Homo sapiens: one gene and its partners. The protein of the gene in region 1 purifies or fractionates together with the protein of each later gene. This does not show direct contact. Each region holds a gene or a part of one and is shown in the gene's direction. Other genes may lie near its edges.

Region 1 (7,239 bases):
AGTCTCGATCTGTCGCCCAGGCTGGAGTGCAGTGGCGCGATCTCGGCTCACTGCAACCTCTACCTCCCAGGTACAAGTGATTCTCAAGCCTCAGCCTCCCCAGTAGCTGGGACTACAGGTCCCAGATCACCTGAATCAGAGTTGGCATCTTAACAAGATCTCTGGGTAATCCACCACGCCTGGCTAATTTTTGTATTTTTAGTAAAGACGAGGTTTCACCATGTTGGCCAGGCTGGTCTTGACCTCTTGACCTCAGGTGAGGTCACCTGCCTCGGTCTCCCAAAGTGCTGGGATTACAGGTGTGAGTCACCGTGCCCGGCCTCTCAAAATGTTGTAGAATTACCACATGGTCCAGCAATCCCATTTCTGGGTATACGACCAAAAGAAATGAAAGCAGGGACTTGAACAGATTATTTGTACACCCATGTTCATAACAGCATTATTCACAATAGCATACATAGCAACCCAAGGGTCCAGCAACAGATGAATAAACAAAATGTAGTCTATACAGTATATACATACACGGAATACTGTTGAGTCTTAAAAAGAAAGGAAATTCTAACGTGCTACAATAAGTAAAGCTTGAAAAAATTATGCTAAGTGAAATAAGCCAGTAACCAAAGGGCAAGTACTGTATGATTCCATTAAATGAAGTACCTAAAATAGTCCAATTAACAGAAAAAGAAAGTAGATGGTAGTTACCAGGGACTGGGTCAGAGGGGAGAATGGGGAGTTATTGTTTAATGGGAATAGGTTTCAGTTTTGCAAGATGAAAATAGTTCTAGAGATGGATGGTGGTGATGACCGCACAACAATGTGACTGTACCTAAGTGCCACTGACCTATATGCTTACAAATGGTTAATATGACAGATGTGTATATTTTACCAGAATAAACAAGAAAAAAAACTAGATGCATATATATGGTTGCCTGATTTATAAGGAAGGTGATAGTGGTGAAAGGATGGTCTGTTCAATAAATGGTGCCAGGATACCCTTACAGGGGCAAAAAATTTTCATCCCTATCTCACACCACACACAAATATCAATTCCAGATGAATTGCAAATATAAATGTGAAAGCTGAAACAATAATGCTTTTAGAAGAAAACACAGAAGAGCTTTATAACCTTGGGGTGGGCAAAGATAGCTTAAATAGGATGCAAAAAATTCTACCATAAAAGAAAAAAATTAAAAGTCAGAATATATTAAAATTAAAAACTTATGTTAATCAAAACATACCAACATGAGTGAAAAAACCACAGAATTAGAGAAGATATTTCTGATACACCTATCTGGAAAATGACTCATATCCAGACTATAAAAAGAACTCTATAAATCAATATGAAGACAGACAACTCAATGGAAAAATAAGCAAAAGACTGAACACAGCATGTATTCATATGGTCAAATAACACATGAAAAGGTGGTCAATTTCATTTGTCACCAGGGAAATACAAATTAAAACTACCATGAGATATTGCTACAAACCACCGGATTTAAAAGAAAAAAACTAAATATTAGAATGTGGAACAACTAGAATTCTCATACACGCTGAGAACTTTGGTGACTTTGGAAGCTGGGAGTATCTACCATAAGACATATACTACAATGCATAGCAGCACATTTTATAACAGCCTCCAAATGGAAATTACTCAAATGTTCATCCAACGTAAAATGGATAAATTGCAGAACATTCATCTAATGGATGACTATATAGCAATGTAAAGAAACAACCTATAATAATTCTGTTTGTTTAAAGACCAGATTATGAACTTCAACAATCTATAATAATGCTAATCTACATGAATGAATCTCACAAAGTAATGTAGTACCAAGATAGGAAGCCAGTTATGAAAGAGAAAACATGCAAAACGAATCTGTGATGCTATAAATCAAGGAAGCAGTTACCCTCTGGTTGTAGGAGGGGTGGTGATGCAGGTAATAACTGGAAGATGGTCCAAGTGCAGCTTCTATGGTGTGATATAGTGGATGTGAAGGCCATTGGTACTGGCAAACTTCTTAAAAATCCAGATAGATGAAATAAAAATGATATATGAAGATTTTTTGGCAACCGTTTTAGGTTCAGCCATCTAGGCGGTTATGAAGGGAATGGAATTATAGCAGGGGAGATTATGTGTTTAAAATGACACACTACGTGTAAGATATTGTGCTTGACGAAGAGAAGTCATTCAACAAATATATACGAAGAATCTTTTTCTTTTTTTTTTTTGAGACAGAGTCTCACTCTGTCGCCAGGCTGGAGTGCAGTGGCGCGATCTCGGCTCACCGCAACCTCCGCCTCCCAGGTTCAAGCAATTCTCCTGCCTCAGCCTCCCAAGTAGCTGGGACTACAGGTACGTGCCACCATGCCTGGCTAATTTTTGTATTTTTAGTAGAGACAGGGTTTCACCATGTTGGCCAGAATGGTCTCGATCTCTCGACCTCGTGATCCGCCCGCCTCGGCCTCCCAAAGCGCTGGGTTCACAGGCGTGAGCCACCGCACCTGGCCTTATTTTATTTTTTTAAAGCTATCTCCTACAGGAAGGAAAGCATAATTTTTCACATTTACTTTTATTTATTTATTTATTGAGACAAACTCTCGTTCCGTCGCCCAGGCTGGAGCGCAGTGGCACTCTCGGCTCACTGCAACCTCCGCCTCCTGGGTTCAAGCGATTCTCCTGCCTCAGCCTCCAGAGCAGCTGGGATTACAGGCGCCCGCCACCACGCCCGGCTAATTTTTGTATTTTTAGTAGAGATGGGGTTTCAACATGTTGGCCAGGCTGGTCTTGAACTCCTGAGTTCAAGTGATCCGCCCCGTCTCAGCCTCTCAAAGTGCTGAGATTACAGGCTTGTGCCACCTCGCTCAGCTGGAAGGCATAATTTTTAAAGTGGTTATGACAGAAATTATATTGGAAAGGGGCCTGTAGTAGAAACATAGCCTCCGGGTAGACCAGGAAGAAAAATTAGATTCAGAAATGGCAGGGTTACTCTTTCAGCTTTACTCTTCTCCAACTGGGTGTCGGTGCTAGTCTACAAATGTGAATAAACATTAAAGCAGATAGGTATGCATGCCGGAATCCGAGAAGCATTCGTTTCGTATATACCAAGTGCCTGTTGCGTGTTCAGGTAGAAGACCATAGTGCAATGGTGGAGACAGATTATGTCGACAAATTATTCAAATACAGTGTACTAAATATGCAATGTAATTAGGAAAAAACCCGAGGGCAAAAAGAAAGGCATGACAATGCTTCGGGGAATCTGGAAAGGTTTTATTGGTGTGACATTTAAGTTGGGCCTTGAAGGATGGGGAGAAGTTTGTCAGTTATGTTTAGGAATGCAACCAGAGGAAGCCCAGAAGCCTAGAGCGTTAAGGAATTGCGCAGCAACTCAGACTGGATTGAGTATTGGGCTGTGTTTGTCAGATGCAATAACAGAATGAGAGGCTAGGAAGGCAGGTCGGGGGCTGGAGAGAACAGGATCTGCAAGGTTCTTGTAATCAGAAGGCAATATGGCACAGAGGTTAAGAGAACCGCTTCCTTCTAAGTCGCGCTCCATCACTTGCTAGCAGTATGATCTAGACACTGGCATGGGCTTGGGCGTACCCATTTGCAACATGGGAAAATAGTTTTTTTCTTATACGGCTTAAATGACTGAGTGGGTATCAGTCAGTTAGGGCAGCGTGCAGCTCATATTAAGGCTAAATGAGAATGTATTATCATCACGAAGCCAAACCACGCCAAAGCTCGTTTCTAGGAGGGTCCCCCAGCCTCCTCCCCCCTGCTACTGTTTGGGAAGAGAAAAGTTCTCTCGGGTCAGGCCGCGCCCACTCCCCACTCCTCCGCCCTCCTAGGCCTCCGACTTTCTTCAGCGAGCAGGGCCCGGCCAGGGAGTGGGTAGATGGGCCTGGTGGGCAGCGGAGACGCCGCCGCTTACCAGGGCTCGGGTCCCGCTCTTCGTCCTCCGCTGTTCCGCGGGCCTTGAAGCCGGGCGGCAGGGCCGGTCCGATCAGGTCTCTTGCCATCCGCGGTGGCGGACACTGGTCACAGATATGAGTCTATCCACGAACGTCAACCCTATCCAAAAAGAATCCCGCGATCAGCAGCGAAGAATGGCAGGTTTCCCGGCGCCGAGAAATGACGTAAAGCCTGTGGTTGGCTGAGCCTTGTAGTTCACGGTAAAGGAAGTGACGCCTAATGCTTGCTCCACAGTCGCGTGCTAGACTCCGGACCCGCCAGTGGTATGGCTGAGCCGACTAGTGATTTCGAGACTCCTATCGGGTGGCATGCGTCTCCCGAGCTGACTCCCACGTTAGGGCCCCTGAGCGACACTGCCCCGCCGCGGGACAGCTGGATGTTCTGGGCAATGCTGCCGCCACCGCCACCACCACTTACGTCCTCGCTTCCCGCAGCCGGGTCAAAGCCTTCCTCTGAGTCGCAGCCCCCCATGGAGGCCCAGTCTCTCCCCGGGGCTCCGCCCCCCTTCGACGCCCAGATTCTTCCCGGGGCGCAACCCCCCTTCGACGCCCAGTCTCCCCTTGATTCTCAGCCTCAACCCAGCGGCCAGCCTTGGAATTTCCATGCTTCCACATCGTGGTATTGGAGACAGTCTTCTGATAGGTTTCCTCGGCATCAGAAGTCCTTCAACCCTGCAGGTAGGCTATTTTTCCACGTGAGTCGACCCCTTTACCTTTTTCCCCCGTTCTTTCCTCTCCCCTTTCTCTGCTTCCTCTCTCTACTCTGCCTTGCCTCTGCACTCTTGGAGTCTGGTCATTAGCATCTCAAAGCAAAGTGAGACCCCCGTCTCTACAAAAAAAATAAAATTAGCCAGGCATGGTGGCATGCCTGTGGTCGCAGATGCATGGGAGGCTGAGGCAGGAGGATTCCTTGAACCCAGGAAGTCGAGGCTGCTTTATCAACTAAGTTTATATAATATTGTAAATCCTTTGTTCTCAAAATATGTCTGACTAGAATGTTTTCCTGTTGACTGTTAATTCCATTTAGCAGTTATTTATTGAATTCCGACTATGTACCAGAATCTGGGTATATAGCAGTGAGCAGAACATACAAAAAATATTATGGAGCTTAATATTATCTCTCTTGTGTAGGAAGACAGACAATAAGCAAAATAAAATATTGTGCATTAGAAGGTTGAGTGGCATGGAGAGAGATAAAACAAAGAAGAATGGTAAGTAGTGCAGGATTTTCTTTTTTTCTTTTTTTTTGGAGACAGAGTGTCGCTCTGTCGCCCAGGCTGGAGTGAAGAGTAGCGCGATCTACTTCACTCCAGCCTATGCAGTCTCTGCAGAGAGGCTCACTGCAACCTCTGCCTCCCGAGTTCAAGCAATTCTCATGCCTCAAACTCCTGAGTAGCTGGGACTACAGGCCCACGCCACCACACCCGGCTAATTTTTTATATTTTTAGTAGAAAGGGGGTTGCCCCGTGTTGGACAGGCCTGTCTCTAACTCCTGAGCTCAGGCATCCGCCCGCCTCAGCCTCCCAAAGTGTTGGGATTACAGGCATGAGCCACCACGCCGGGCCAGGTAGTGCAGTTTTAAATGTCATTGTTAGTCATAAGGAAGGTGACATATGAGCGAAGACTTTAGGGAGGTGAGAGATCACAGCCATGCATACAACTGGGAGAATAGGGGTACGGGCAGAAGGAACTGCAAGTGCAAAGGTCTTGAGGCTTAGAAGCTATACATCAGAATGGGAACCAGTGTGGCTACAGAGGACTGAGTCTGGAGTATAATTGTAGAAGATGGGGGAGGAGGGTAAGACCTGGTATGTCTTTGTAGATCGTGGGACTTTGACTTTTACTGTTGTGAGGTGGGTAGTACAGCGGATTGACATGACCTGATTTACGTTTTAAGAGGATTAATGTGTCTGTTGGTGAGAACTGACTGAAAGGGAAACCGGTTAGGAAGCTATTGTAGTTACTTTTCTAAACAAGAGATATTGGAGACTTGGACCAGGGTGAAGCCCAAGGGATGGTGAGAAGTAGTTGGATTCTAGATCTGGGGATACCTTGGAGCTCTTGTGGGTTCAGTTACAGACCACTGCAGTAAAGCAAGTCACACAATTATTTTTTTTTTGGTTTTCCGTTGCATGTAAAAGTATGTTTTCCTGCAGATCCTATGGGGCAAAAAAGTTATTTTTACATTATACCATAGTCTAGTAAGTGTGCAATACCATTATGTCTTAAAAAACAACTTACATACCTTGATTAAAAAATACTTTAGGCTGAGCAGGGTAGCTCACACCTATAATCTGGGCACTTTATTTATTTTTTTTTTTAATTTGTTGAGACAGAGTCTCTGTTGCTCAGGCTGGAGTGCAATGGCGTGATCTTGGCTCATTGCAACCTCCACCTCCCAGGTTGAGGTGATTCTCCTGCCTCAGCCTCCCGAGCAGCTGGTACTACAGGTGCCCGCCACCATGCCTGGCTAATTTTTGTATTTTTAGTAGAGACAAGGTTTCACCATGTTGGCCAGGCTTATCTCGAACTCCTGACCTCAAGTGATCCATCCTCCTTGGCCTCCGAAAAGTGCTGAGATTACAAGCGTGAGCCACTGCACCCAGCCTAATCTTAGCACTTTGAGAGGCAGAGGCAAGAGGATTGCTTGAGCCCAGGAGTTTGAGACCTGCCTGGGCAACAAAGTGAGACCCCCGTCTCTACAAAAAAAATAAAATTAGCCAGGCGTGGTGGAATGCCTGTGGTCCTAGAAGCATGGGAGGCTGAGGCAGGAGGATTCCTTGAGCCCAGGAAGTCGAGGCTACTTTATCAACTAAGTTTATATAATATTATAAATCCTTTGTTGTCATTTCAACAGTGTTCACAGCATCTTCACCAGGAGTAGATTCCTTCTCAAAAAAGCACTTTCTTTCCTCATCCATAAGAAGCCACTTCTCATCCATTAAAGGTTTACCATGAGATTGCAGCAAGTCACATCTTGTGGCTCCACTTCTTTTTTTTTTTTTTTTTTTGAGATGGAGTCTTGCTCTGTTGCCCAGGCTGGAGTGCAGTGGCTCGATCTTGGCTCATTGCAAGCTCTGCCTCCCAGGTTCACGCCGTTCTCCTGCCTCAGCCTCCCTAGTAGCTGGGACTACAGGCGCCCACCACCACGCCCGGCTGATTTTTTTGTATTTTTAGTAGAGATGGGGTTTCACCATGTTAGCCAGGATGGTCTCGATCGCCTGACCTCGTGATCCACCCACCTCAGCCTCCCAAAGTGTTGGGATT
Region 2 (3,493 bases), on another chromosome or scaffold:
AACACCCAGCGCACAGGGAACCTGTGTCATCACTGGCTGATGCTCCACTGGCTGGTAACTATTTTTAACCTCTCCTGCTCCATTCCTCTGCCGCAGACTCCGTCCCCAGGGGCCCTGCCCTTGGGCCGCCAGACCTCCCAGCAGCCCGCAGGGCCCCCGGCTCAGCAGCGACCCCCACCACAGGGTAAGCGAGAGGCTGGCGGTCGCAGTCCCCTCCCTCAGCCCGCCATCTCTTACCCGCTCACTCTCACGTGTGCTCTTTCTCTCCCTCTGTCCCCCAGGCGGCCCTCCACAGCCGGGTCCAGGCCCCCAGCGCCAGGGACCCCCATTGCAGCAGCGCCCGCCCCCGCAGGGCCAGCAGCACCTTTCAGGCCTTGGACCCCCAGCTGGCAGCCCCCTGCCCCAGCGCCTTCCAAGTCCCACCTCAGCGCCCCAGCAGCCCGCGTCCCAGGCCGCGCCGCCGACCCAGGGTCAAGGCCGCCAATCCCGGCCAGTGGCGGGAGGCCCCGGGGCGCCTCCAGCAGCCCGCCCGCCCGCCTCTCCGTCTCCCCAGCGCCAGGCGGGCCCCCCACAGGCTACCCGTCAGACATCCGTCTCTGGCCCGGCTCCGCCAAAGGCCTCTGGGGCCCCACCGGGCGGGCAGCAGCGCCAGGGCCCGCCCCAGAAACCCCCAGGCCCAGCCGGCCCCACACGCCAGGCCAGCCAGGCGGGTCCCGTGCCCCGCACTGGGCCACCCACCACGCAGCAGCCTCGGCCCAGCGGCCCGGGCCCCGCTGGACGTCCCAAACCACAGCTGGCCCAGAAACCCAGCCAGGACGTGCCGCCACCCGCCACCGCCGCTGCAGGGGGACCTCCGCACCCCCAGCTCAAGTAAGGGGACCCCTACAGCAGCCTTCGCCTTGCTGCTCACAAAGCGGGCCGCTGCCCCAGTAGAGCAGCCCTAGCTCCCTTGCTCCTCAGACCCAGGTCCTATGCAGGGGTCCCACGAACTCTCTCCAGCCTGAGCCAAGCCCTTCCCCCAAGCTTTCGCTCCTCCCGGCCCACCAGAGGCTCCGCACCCCCACCCCAGGAATTTGGTGCCAGAATCCCAGAGAAACTGCACTCAGTTCGAATTCCTCCTCAAAGGCCCTGGGAAAGTTTCCTCCTCCAGGGCCTCCCAGGCACCTGGCTGACCCACCCTCTGCAACTTCCTGCCCAGCCCAGAGCCTTCCCTGCCAAACTCGCCCCCCCGCCACCAACCCATCCCTAAAACTCCTGGCCCGAGTCCTAGTCCTCCTATCATCTGGCTCTTCCCACTCCATCCTCATACTTTTCCTCCTCCTTCACATCCTTCTGGCCCATCTCAGTCTCCCCGCGAATCATCACCCATCTGCCTTTTCTGGTCCATTCCAACTCCCATCCCAGCTCAGACGTCCTCCCTGCCCCACCCAGCTGCTCTGCCTTAGGCTGACTTGCCCAACAGCCTGTCCTTGGTCCAAGCCCTTTCTATGCCCTCCTAGACACCTCACCCTTAGATTGGAAACTTCCCTGCTCATCTTCCCCTTTGTATCAAACTAGCCAAGAATTCACAGAGAAGGTTCTGCCCAGGACTCTTGCCACGAATCCCACACTTCACCCTGGATCCAAGTCCTCCCAGCCTGTCCCAGATCTCGCCTCCCTGGCCCAGGACTCCACCCACTCCACCTGAGTGCTCCCAGCCTTGAGAACCTGTTAGGGTCCAGGCCCATGGTGGCAGGTGGGGAGGTCACAGGCACAGCCCCAGGATCAGAGGGGCAGGGCTGGGGCTGGGCCTGGGGTAACGTTGTGTTTCTCTCCCCTTCCTCCCCTTCCTCTTCCCCCTTCCTCCCACGCCTCCACCTTGTCTCTCTCTAGCAAATCCCAGTCTCTGACCAATGCCTTCAACCTTCCAGAGCCAGCCCCGCCCAGGCCCAGCCTTAGCCAGGACGAGGTGAAAGCTGAGACCATCCGCAGCCTGAGGAAGTCTTTCGCCAGCCTCTTCTCCGACTGATACCCCACTCTGAGAACCCCAAAATCCCTGGGCAACCCTTCTCTGGGCCCTGAATCCATTTCTCACTTTTGGAGTCTCCAAATCCCTTGAGAACCCATCTCCCGGTTCTCCAAGATTCCACCTCTCATTCCTCAAGATCCCCGAGTACCTTGAGAAACCTGACTCCTCCTGGCCCTAAATCCGGTTCTCACATGTGGAATCCCCAAGTCCTTTTAGAACCCCACTCGTGGTCACTTCAGGATCTACTTCTGTTTTAGAACCTCCACATTCCTGAAGACCTCCGCCCCTGGTTTCCCCAGAGGGCGTTTTCCTTCCTGGAAGTGCCCAAATACCAGGCAACCCATTGCAGAATCCCTTCCTGGAGCCCTGAAGTTCCTGGAAAACCCTATTTTTGGTCCCAAATCTCTCCAGCACACCTATTTCCCATCATAATTTTCCAAATCCTCAAGAAACCCCTACTGTTGAGCCCCTTCCCATGGATCTTCCATCCCTCTGAAGATCCACATCTTCAAATGCCACCCAACACCTAGCCCCACAAGGATTTCCCTTCACCAGCTCCCCTCAACCTCATTCAATACCTTGGGAGCCCCTCCCACTTCCAGGACCCCTCGGTTCCCCCAGGGACCCCCTCCCCAGTTTCCTGCCTCTGACAGCTGTCTTTAAATATGCAAACTCCACCCATCTTCCCAGAATCCTTTGCACACGGAAGGCCAGTGGTCTCCGCTTCCCCACCTTTGCTGTGGTGTCTGTGTCTGTGACTGACGTGGCCTCCTTTTGTGCCGTGCTTGGCATATGTGGTCCTCGTTCATCGTGCCGCCTGTGGTGATGCGTGCAGTGACGCTGTTTATGTGGTCCGCACCTCCCCCTGACCTTCACTCCTTGCCTGGACTCACCCCACCCCTCAGCGGCTCTGAACCCCAAGAGAAGAGTCGGGAAACAAAATAAACAAGCAAAGGCCCAGCAGAATTCTGTGCTTCTTGGTGAAGAAAGAGAGGAGTCCTTGAATGGCGGGGGAGACACAAAAGGGACCCCCCAAAATCCACATGGGGTGCTGGGAACCCCAAAATCCAGTGGAAGGCACATCAGGCACAAATTCCAGAGAGGTTCTGAGTGGAATCCCTGCCACAAATCCCAGCCATTGGAGATGGAGGAGCTCCCAAAATTTAGAAGTATCCCCAAAGCCAAGAGGAAACCAAATGATGGAGGAGACAGGGGGCTCAGTCTTTGGCGGGGGTCCCCCAATTCCAGAAGAACTGGAAAAGCACATGGGGACCCCCTCATCTCCCAGGGTGGGGAATGGGGGATCCTGAGGCAGCATCAGGGCAGAGACGAACATTGATTGGCTGGTGGGCAAGGCTCCTTGGCGTGGAGGGCTGAGATTGGCTCCCTGGTGGCTTGGGCGGGGCCTAAGGCACAAGGCGGGCTGCGCTGAGTAGGCAGGCAGGCAACTCATCGGCCTGGGTGCGGTGCAAGGAGGGTTCCGAG
Region 3 (7,036 bases), on another chromosome or scaffold:
AGTGGAATTGAATTGAGTAGCCCAAGACTTGGCTACTGGTATTGAATGGACAGATCAGGGAATAGTGGCTTAGTGCCCAGGGACACTTGGAAAGTCTGCTGGAGCTGAGGTGGAGAAGCTTTCATCGCTGTTTGACTTGATTCTGGTTATTTTTATATTTGCCCGAGGTGCACTGGACCACATGGATTTTTGCTTCTGACTAGAATGCTTCTTTTCAGTGGAATATAATTTTTCTAGGGAGGTCCAGTGCTTACAGCATGGGCTGCTCTGGGGGGGACTTGTTCCTCTGTGTTTAATTGTAGTGTCTTCTTCAGCTGCAGGAAACGCATTTTGTCAGGCAGCCAAGCTCCACATGCAGCTTCAGAGCAAACATGACTCTGCTACCAGCTTTGTGGATGCTGGAAATGCTTACAAAAAGGCAGATCCCCAAGGTAAGACAGCCAGGCATGTAGCATGCTATCTCTGTGTGTAACTAACCAGTCAGTACTTCCCTCAACGTTAAGGTCAGTGTTGGTGTGCTTTCAAGTCCTGGTAAAAAGGAATTTTTGTATTTTGGAATAATAGAGAATTTTGATAACCTTAGGGATTTTTCTTTTTTAATCATTTGGGGGCTTTTATGAGGAGAAATTATGTTAAATTTATACTGGCTGTTTACTTTATAGCATCATTTAATTAAACTCTTATTTATATTGCATTTTAGAGAATTTTTTGGAAATTACCTTTAATTTTATCTAAGACTTCTTATATCTTAATTTTGTGAAAATGTATATTGTTCATAAAAGGAAACTCTTATGTTCCCTTACTCCTAAATACCTAAGGAGTTTTCAGATCCAGTTAATGGGAGATTGTAATATTCAATCGTTAAAAAGTCTGATTCATACAGTATTCATTTGGTTTTTTAAAAAGTTTTTCAAAGTATTTGTTTTGAGGAAAGAATGCAATTGGATATTTAATGTGGTAAAATTTTGCAAAGATTATTTCTTTTTAGTTAGAAGAGTGTAATTAAAAGTATTAATTTCTTACCTTCCACACGCGTGCACAGCGGAAATTTTGTGTTTTTCCTTTTTCTTTTAGCAGTCCATTTTGTTTAACACACAGATCCCAAATTTTGAGAATAAATATGTCATAAAGAAATAGGGTATCTTCAATACCTTTGGTATAAGGGTTAATCACAGTTTATTTCCCAAAGTGACAAACTGGACACAGGTTAAATAAGCTGTTAGAGTGGTAACATTGTAATGCATCAGTACTTTAGAATATGGTGCAGGCATTAAAATCCCTGGTTTCAGAGAATCTTCAGTGACCTGGTAAATGTTTACATGTCAATTAAAGAAGCACATGAGACTGAATGTTGTATAATCTCATTTTCAGAAAAAAGTTTGTGCATATAGAAATGTGTCTAATAAACGCAAAAGGAAAGTACATCTGAGTACTAACAACGGATTTGAGCGGGATTATTGATAGATTATTTTTCTCTTTATATTCTGTATTTTAAAAGGTGTAACAGGGATCCACATTTTTTATGTAGTTTAGAGGGAAATTGTTTTAATTTTTGTTCATCTGCTTACCTTTCTAATTTTGTAGTCAGGCCTTTCTACTTTGCTGCCTCTTTAAACCAAACGTAATAAACTTGGAGCTGTCACTGTATGCCAGCATCATAAACACCATCATTTTATGATAGGGAAAATTTTTTGGCTCACTTGTTTAGAAAATTAGTAAAATTTATTAGCATTATTATTTATTAGATTTGTTTCTTCATTTTGTTAGTATGCTACAATTTAGCATCTTTGAACATTATACAGAATGTTGACTTTGCTTAAGGGTTGTTTGAATAGGCATTTCAAAGTGCTTTTGCTTTTGGCTGCATGGAGAGTAGAATCTATTGAGGTGATTGTTCTTGTGATGTGGTGCCATGTTCCAAAATTAATATATATGCATGGTATTAATGAGGAATATGTTTGCATTCATATTTTAGCAGATACAATTTATCAGTGTTGGTGACAACCTCTATGGTTTTATTTTCTTTATAATACAGTCTTTTGCCTGGATGGAGTCCTCACTTTAAGGTTAAGAGTAACTAAGCCAATGTTACTCCAGCTACAGTTCCCTAAATTATACTATAGCTGCTGGGAACAAAGCCATGCTGATGAATCTGGACTTGTGCATGATTTTTGTTTGCTTCTCATTAACCTGCCCACCCTCCACTCCAAAATTATACCTCATTAACGTTCTGATAACAGCCAGGAAGACAGCCTCACCTGAACCCTCTTTGACTGAATGGATTTTTCATTGTTTTTCTTAAATGCCTACGCTTCAGAGGCTATCAACTGCTTAAATGCAGCCATCGACATTTACACAGACATGGTAAGACATTGCATTGCTTGAGTGGCTGTGGGGTGGAGTCTTGAGATGGCTTAGAGTTCTATCTTTCTTTTTTATGTTCCCAAACTGGCATTCAGATAGGTAAAATCGGTGTGTGACTGTTTCTTGTTTTTTCCCCTAGGGAAGGTTTACAATTGCAGCCAAGCACCACATTACTATTGCAGAGATCTATGAGACTGAACTTGTAGACATTGAGAAGGTAAGCAGTGGGCACACTTCCTCAGATGTGAAGCAGGCAGATAAGCTGACTCAAAGAACTCTCCTCTCCTCAGTCTGAGAGTGATCGTAGGTGTAGAGTGGTCATAGATGGCCTTGCCTGGAGACTTTCTGGCAAAGTCTACTAGCTGGCTAAGTAGATGGGCTGTTTTCCTGGAGTGGACATCTAAGACATGAGAGCTGATTAAGATTTACAGAGATCACCTGTTGTTTCCACTCTCTCTGATTCATGTCAGAACATTAGCATTGCCAAAAGAACCTTCAGCTGTATTGCTTAGTACTCTAAGGCCCAGTGAAGAAAGTGTAAGAGGTCACCTCTGTACACTCAGTCAGCATCACAGCTTTAAGTATCTGTGTGCCAGTGACTCAGAAATCTGACTGCAGCCTAGACCTCTCTCCAAATGCTAGATTACTGTATCCACCTGCCTGCTGACCTCTCCACTTTGTCCAGCAGTCATCTCTAACCCAACATGTCTGGGACTGGATTCTCAGATGTCCCCAACCCAGTGTTCCCCGCTAAACTACAGGCTTCCTTGCCTTTTCTCTTTCTCTACAACCTGTGAGCAATTTTTGTGAGCGGTGTCCTTCCTGCTCCCAAGTCTTGGCACAACTCACTACCTTGTCTCTCAGCTCACACTTGATCGCTGCAGGATCCTTCAAACCGGTCTCCCTGCTTTTGCTCTCCCTACCTTGCCAACCCCACATCCCCATGCCACAGAGTAGCCAGAGTGAGCCTTCTAAGCATTGCATCATACTCTGTTTCTCTACTGCTGACAGTCATTAGACCCCTTTCACTAAGAGGAACAGCTGGAGCTGTGCAGAGCCTTCATGGGTCCACTGAATTGCTTCCTCCCAGCCCCACACTCCCCATGCATCTGTGTGGCCTGGCCTCTCCTCTTTTCTGTTATTCTCCTCCTCTTGCATACCCTGCATGGCCATCCTGGCCTCCTTGCTGTTCCGCACACATGCCAGATGAGCGCTCCTGCCTCAGGACCTTTGTATCCACGATTTCCTCTGTCTGCAAAGCTCTTCCCCAGATGTCCACGTGGCTGACTCCTCACATCTTTCAAGTCCACATGGCTAACTTCCCCGTGCCCTTCCATTTTTGCTCATTTATTACCTATTTCCATGATTAACTATTATGACCCCCTAGTTAATTTAGCCCCCCAGGAAGACATAGTAGATCCCCACACACCTCACTTAACTTCTTGTATTGCTGAGCAGATGTCTCCTTACAATATGCCCTCTCATATGCTTGCTCATCATTCTCATTTTGGTTGTCTCTCTCCCTCCGCCAGATTGGGCACACGTGTCAGCAGAGAGCTTTGTCTCTGCTTTGCTGATGTGTCCCAAGAGCCCAGAACTCTGGGACCTAGTGGGGTCTAAATATTTGCTAAATAAACAAATGCTACCCCTACCTCCACCATACCAAATGGAGTCTTCCTGGTCTGGGGAAGGATCTGCTAGGCGTTACTGAAATTGGACTGGCATTGTTAACGTTCACTCTTTTGACTGTGTGACCTCCACCTGTTGGTTATTCAGCACAAAATTTGCTCATATTTGTTACATAAAATTTATTATTTGACCTTTTTTTTTTATAATTGCCATACTTTTCTGAGGATACTCCCTGATCTTGATCAAGTCAGGGCCACCCTGTGCATTGACGTGTGTGTGAGCCTTCTCTTTGGAAGGTTATCTGTGGATCCTGGAGGCAGGTGATGGAGCTGGATCTGAACCTCCTTTGTTCCCTGGTGTGGAATTGATGATGGAATGGGAGGGAGATGGATCTGGTGTGGCTGGGGTATTTATTTGGTCAGGGTGTCTGGGATGGCCACAGTATCTTTATTTAGGTTTGAGTGAGTCTTGCGGGGATGAGCACTGTGCGCAGAGCATCTTTGCCAGCAGAGGCTCCTGTTCCAGCTTCCTCTTTCACAGTGGTCAGAAGGGCACTCTGGGGCAGGAGCCTGCAGTGCTGTGTCATTTCTGCTGCCCAGGCATGGTCTCCAACACATGGGTCTCCATAAACTTGAGAGCAGATAAAATGAAATGTGACATACTCTTTTTTTCTCTTGAAAAAAAAAAGGCCAGGTACAGTGGCTGATGCCTATAATCCTACCACTTTGGGAGGCCAAGGCAGGAGGATCACTTGAGCCCAGGAGTTCAAGACCAGCCTGGGCAACATGAGAAATCCCCATCTCTACTAAAAATATAAAAAAAAAAACTATCCAGGAATGGTGGCGTGTGCCTCATTCTGTTCCACAGGCTGGACAGGTTGGAGTGGCATGAACACAGCTCACTGTAGCCTCAGCCTCCTGGGCTCAAGCGATCCTCCCACCTCAGCCTTCCAAGTAGCTGAGACTACAGGCATGTGCCACCATGCCCGGCTAATTTTTTAATTTTTCATACAAATGAGGTCTTTTCATGTTGCCCAGGCTGGTCTCAAACTCCTGGACTCAAGCAGTCCTCCCATCTTGGCCTCCCAAATGCTGAGATTACAGTCATGGACCATCATGCCTGACCTTCACGGAATACTGAATTTTAAAATGCAGCTATAAAAGAACAGGTGTACTATGGTTCTCTTTTTGCAAATACTTAGTCACACACAGAAATAGTCTGGAAGAAAATATTTCTCTGGAAGAAAATATTTCTTTGGAACACCTGTCAGAGCTGTCATGTACACACATGTGAGATTACCTGATGAAGGTACATCTCCTCCCTCTAAAATGTGGGCTCTGTGAGGGCAGGGCCCATGACTGTTCCGCTCACCATCACAGCCCTGAGCCTAGCATGATGCCTATTTACAAAGTGGGTGCTCAGTAACAGATGCTAAGTGAATGAAGACAAAGTGCATCACAAATGAAAGCTGCCTATAGTTCCATGGCCTGTTTTGTTTTATTTGTTTTCTTGTCCCTGCAAATCTCTTCTAACTCACTAGGAGCTGCCTTGAAGCCACTTAACTAATGGGCTTGGGCAGAAAGGCAGCACCTTTAATCTGATTTTCAGAGACTGCTAGCTCCCTCATTTGCATTTGCTGTGAAACCTTTGTCATTCAAGCATCCTGCAAACCCACCACCTGCTTCTGTATGTTTGCATGCTAAAAATGGTTTTTACGGTTTTTAATCCTTGAGAGAAAAAAGCATTTTGCGACGTGTAAAAATTATATGAAATTAGAAATTTCATTGTTCATAAATATAGTTTTATTGGAACACAACCACACTTATTCATTTATATCTTGTGTATGGCTGCTTTTATGCTACCACAAGAGAGCTGAGTAGTTGCAACAAAGATGCACAAAACCTAAAATATTTCTTGTCTGACCTGTTAGAGAAAAACTTTGGCTAGAGCCCTGGTTTAAAGAGCTGCTCATACTTATCTCTTGTTATTTGGGGTATAGAAGGTTTTTTCAATCTTATGAGAGCTTTATTTCTAAGGCTGTCTACCACCGTCTACAAACCAGCTGATTCTTTGCAGAGTTCAGCTCTTACAAAACTGTGCTAAAAACAGCAGCACACACTATCATCTGACTCTTCTCAGCCATTTTGCTTAGTTTTGGACTCCGGTAGACACTTATTTTTTTGTTTGTTTGTTTGTTTGAGACAGAGTTTCACTCTTGTCACCCAGGCTGGAGTGCAATGGCGCGATCTCAGCTCACTGCAACCTCTGCCTCCCCGGTTCAAGCAGTTCTCCTGTCTCAGCCTCCCAAGTAGCTGGGATTACGGGTGCCCACACCACGCCCGGCTAATTTTTGTATCTTTTTAGTAGAGACAGGGTTTCACCATGTTGGCCAGGCTAGTCCTGAACTCCTCAGGTATTCCACCCTCCTCGGCCTCCAAAAGTGCTGGGATTACAGGCATGAGCCACCGCACCTGGCCGACACCAGTTCTTTTTTCTGAGTTGTCACGTGCTTGATTTCACTAACTTCTACCACAGCATGACAAGGACTTCTAGCTTTCTGGCCTGTGATCTCTGTTTCTTCTCCACTTGATGCCATATATTTTAGATTGACGGCAACACCCTTATTCTAGGTGACACTTAAGGTATTAGTGTGTGTAGTCTGTGCTGCAAGTCATAGACGTAAGGTGTAATTAGGGCTTCATAGCTCTCTAACAATCCAGTGTGGCTGCTAAGGGTTTGACAGTGGTAGAGACACTGGGGTTGGAGGTACCTTGTGTCCTTTGTAATTACTTAGGAACCTGCCTGACAGTTCTGCCATTTTGGTGTCTAGCTTACAGTGTCACTCTGGACTTGGTCATAGCCCTCCTAGCTCATGGGAAGTGGAAGGCCTGGAGGAGGATGCAAAGTGAGATATATGGCCCAAGCCTGGGAGTGGCCCCCAACATGTCTGTTTACATTCCACTGGAGAGAACTAGTCATAGGCTGCCCCTCACTATGGAGGAAGCTGAGGAAGTGGTGTAGCTGGGCATATGCCATGTGGGGA

What was found. The genes of interacting proteins can lie anywhere in the genome.
Region 2: the proteins of NUFIP1 (region 1) and SYN1 purify together in Homo sapiens (affinity purification with mass spectrometry; 3 studies listed by BioGRID and IntAct, with this or other methods). This does not show direct contact.
Region 3: the proteins of NUFIP1 (region 1) and NAPB purify together in Homo sapiens (affinity purification with mass spectrometry; 3 studies listed by BioGRID and IntAct, with this or other methods). This does not show direct contact.

The regions. Positions count from the first base shown.
Region 1 is NC_000013.11:44,986,436-44,993,674, reverse strand, and holds the start of NUFIP1 (FMR1-interacting protein NUFIP1), read left to right. Parts: upstream 1-4,203; 5' UTR 4,204-4,238; coding exon 4,239-4,650; intron 4,651-7,239. Other genes in the region: GPALPP1 (GPALPP motifs-containing protein 1), read right to left, coding at 3,933-4,020. UniProt on the Homo sapiens protein: Binds RNA.
Region 2 is NC_000023.11:47,571,379-47,574,871, reverse strand, and holds the end of SYN1 (synapsin-1), read left to right. Parts: intron 1-96; coding exon 97-184; intron 185-281; coding exon 282-870; intron 871-1,872; coding exon 1,873-2,008; 3' UTR 2,009-2,971; downstream 2,972-3,493. Other genes in the region: ARAF (serine/threonine-protein kinase A-Raf), read right to left, coding at 3,415-3,493. UniProt on the Homo sapiens protein: Neuronal phosphoprotein that coats synaptic vesicles, and binds to the cytoskeleton. Acts as a regulator of synaptic vesicles trafficking, involved in the control of neurotransmitter release at the pre-synaptic terminal.
Region 3 is NC_000020.11:23,390,467-23,397,502, reverse strand, and holds part of NAPB (beta-soluble NSF attachment protein), read left to right. Parts: intron 1-302; coding exon of another isoform or gene 303-314; coding exon 315-431; intron 432-2,035; coding exon of another isoform or gene 2,036-2,226; exon of another isoform or gene 2,227-2,277; coding exon of another isoform or gene 2,278-2,317; coding exon 2,318-2,364; intron 2,365-2,503; coding exon 2,504-2,581; intron 2,582-7,036. UniProt on the Homo sapiens protein: Required for vesicular transport between the endoplasmic reticulum and the Golgi apparatus.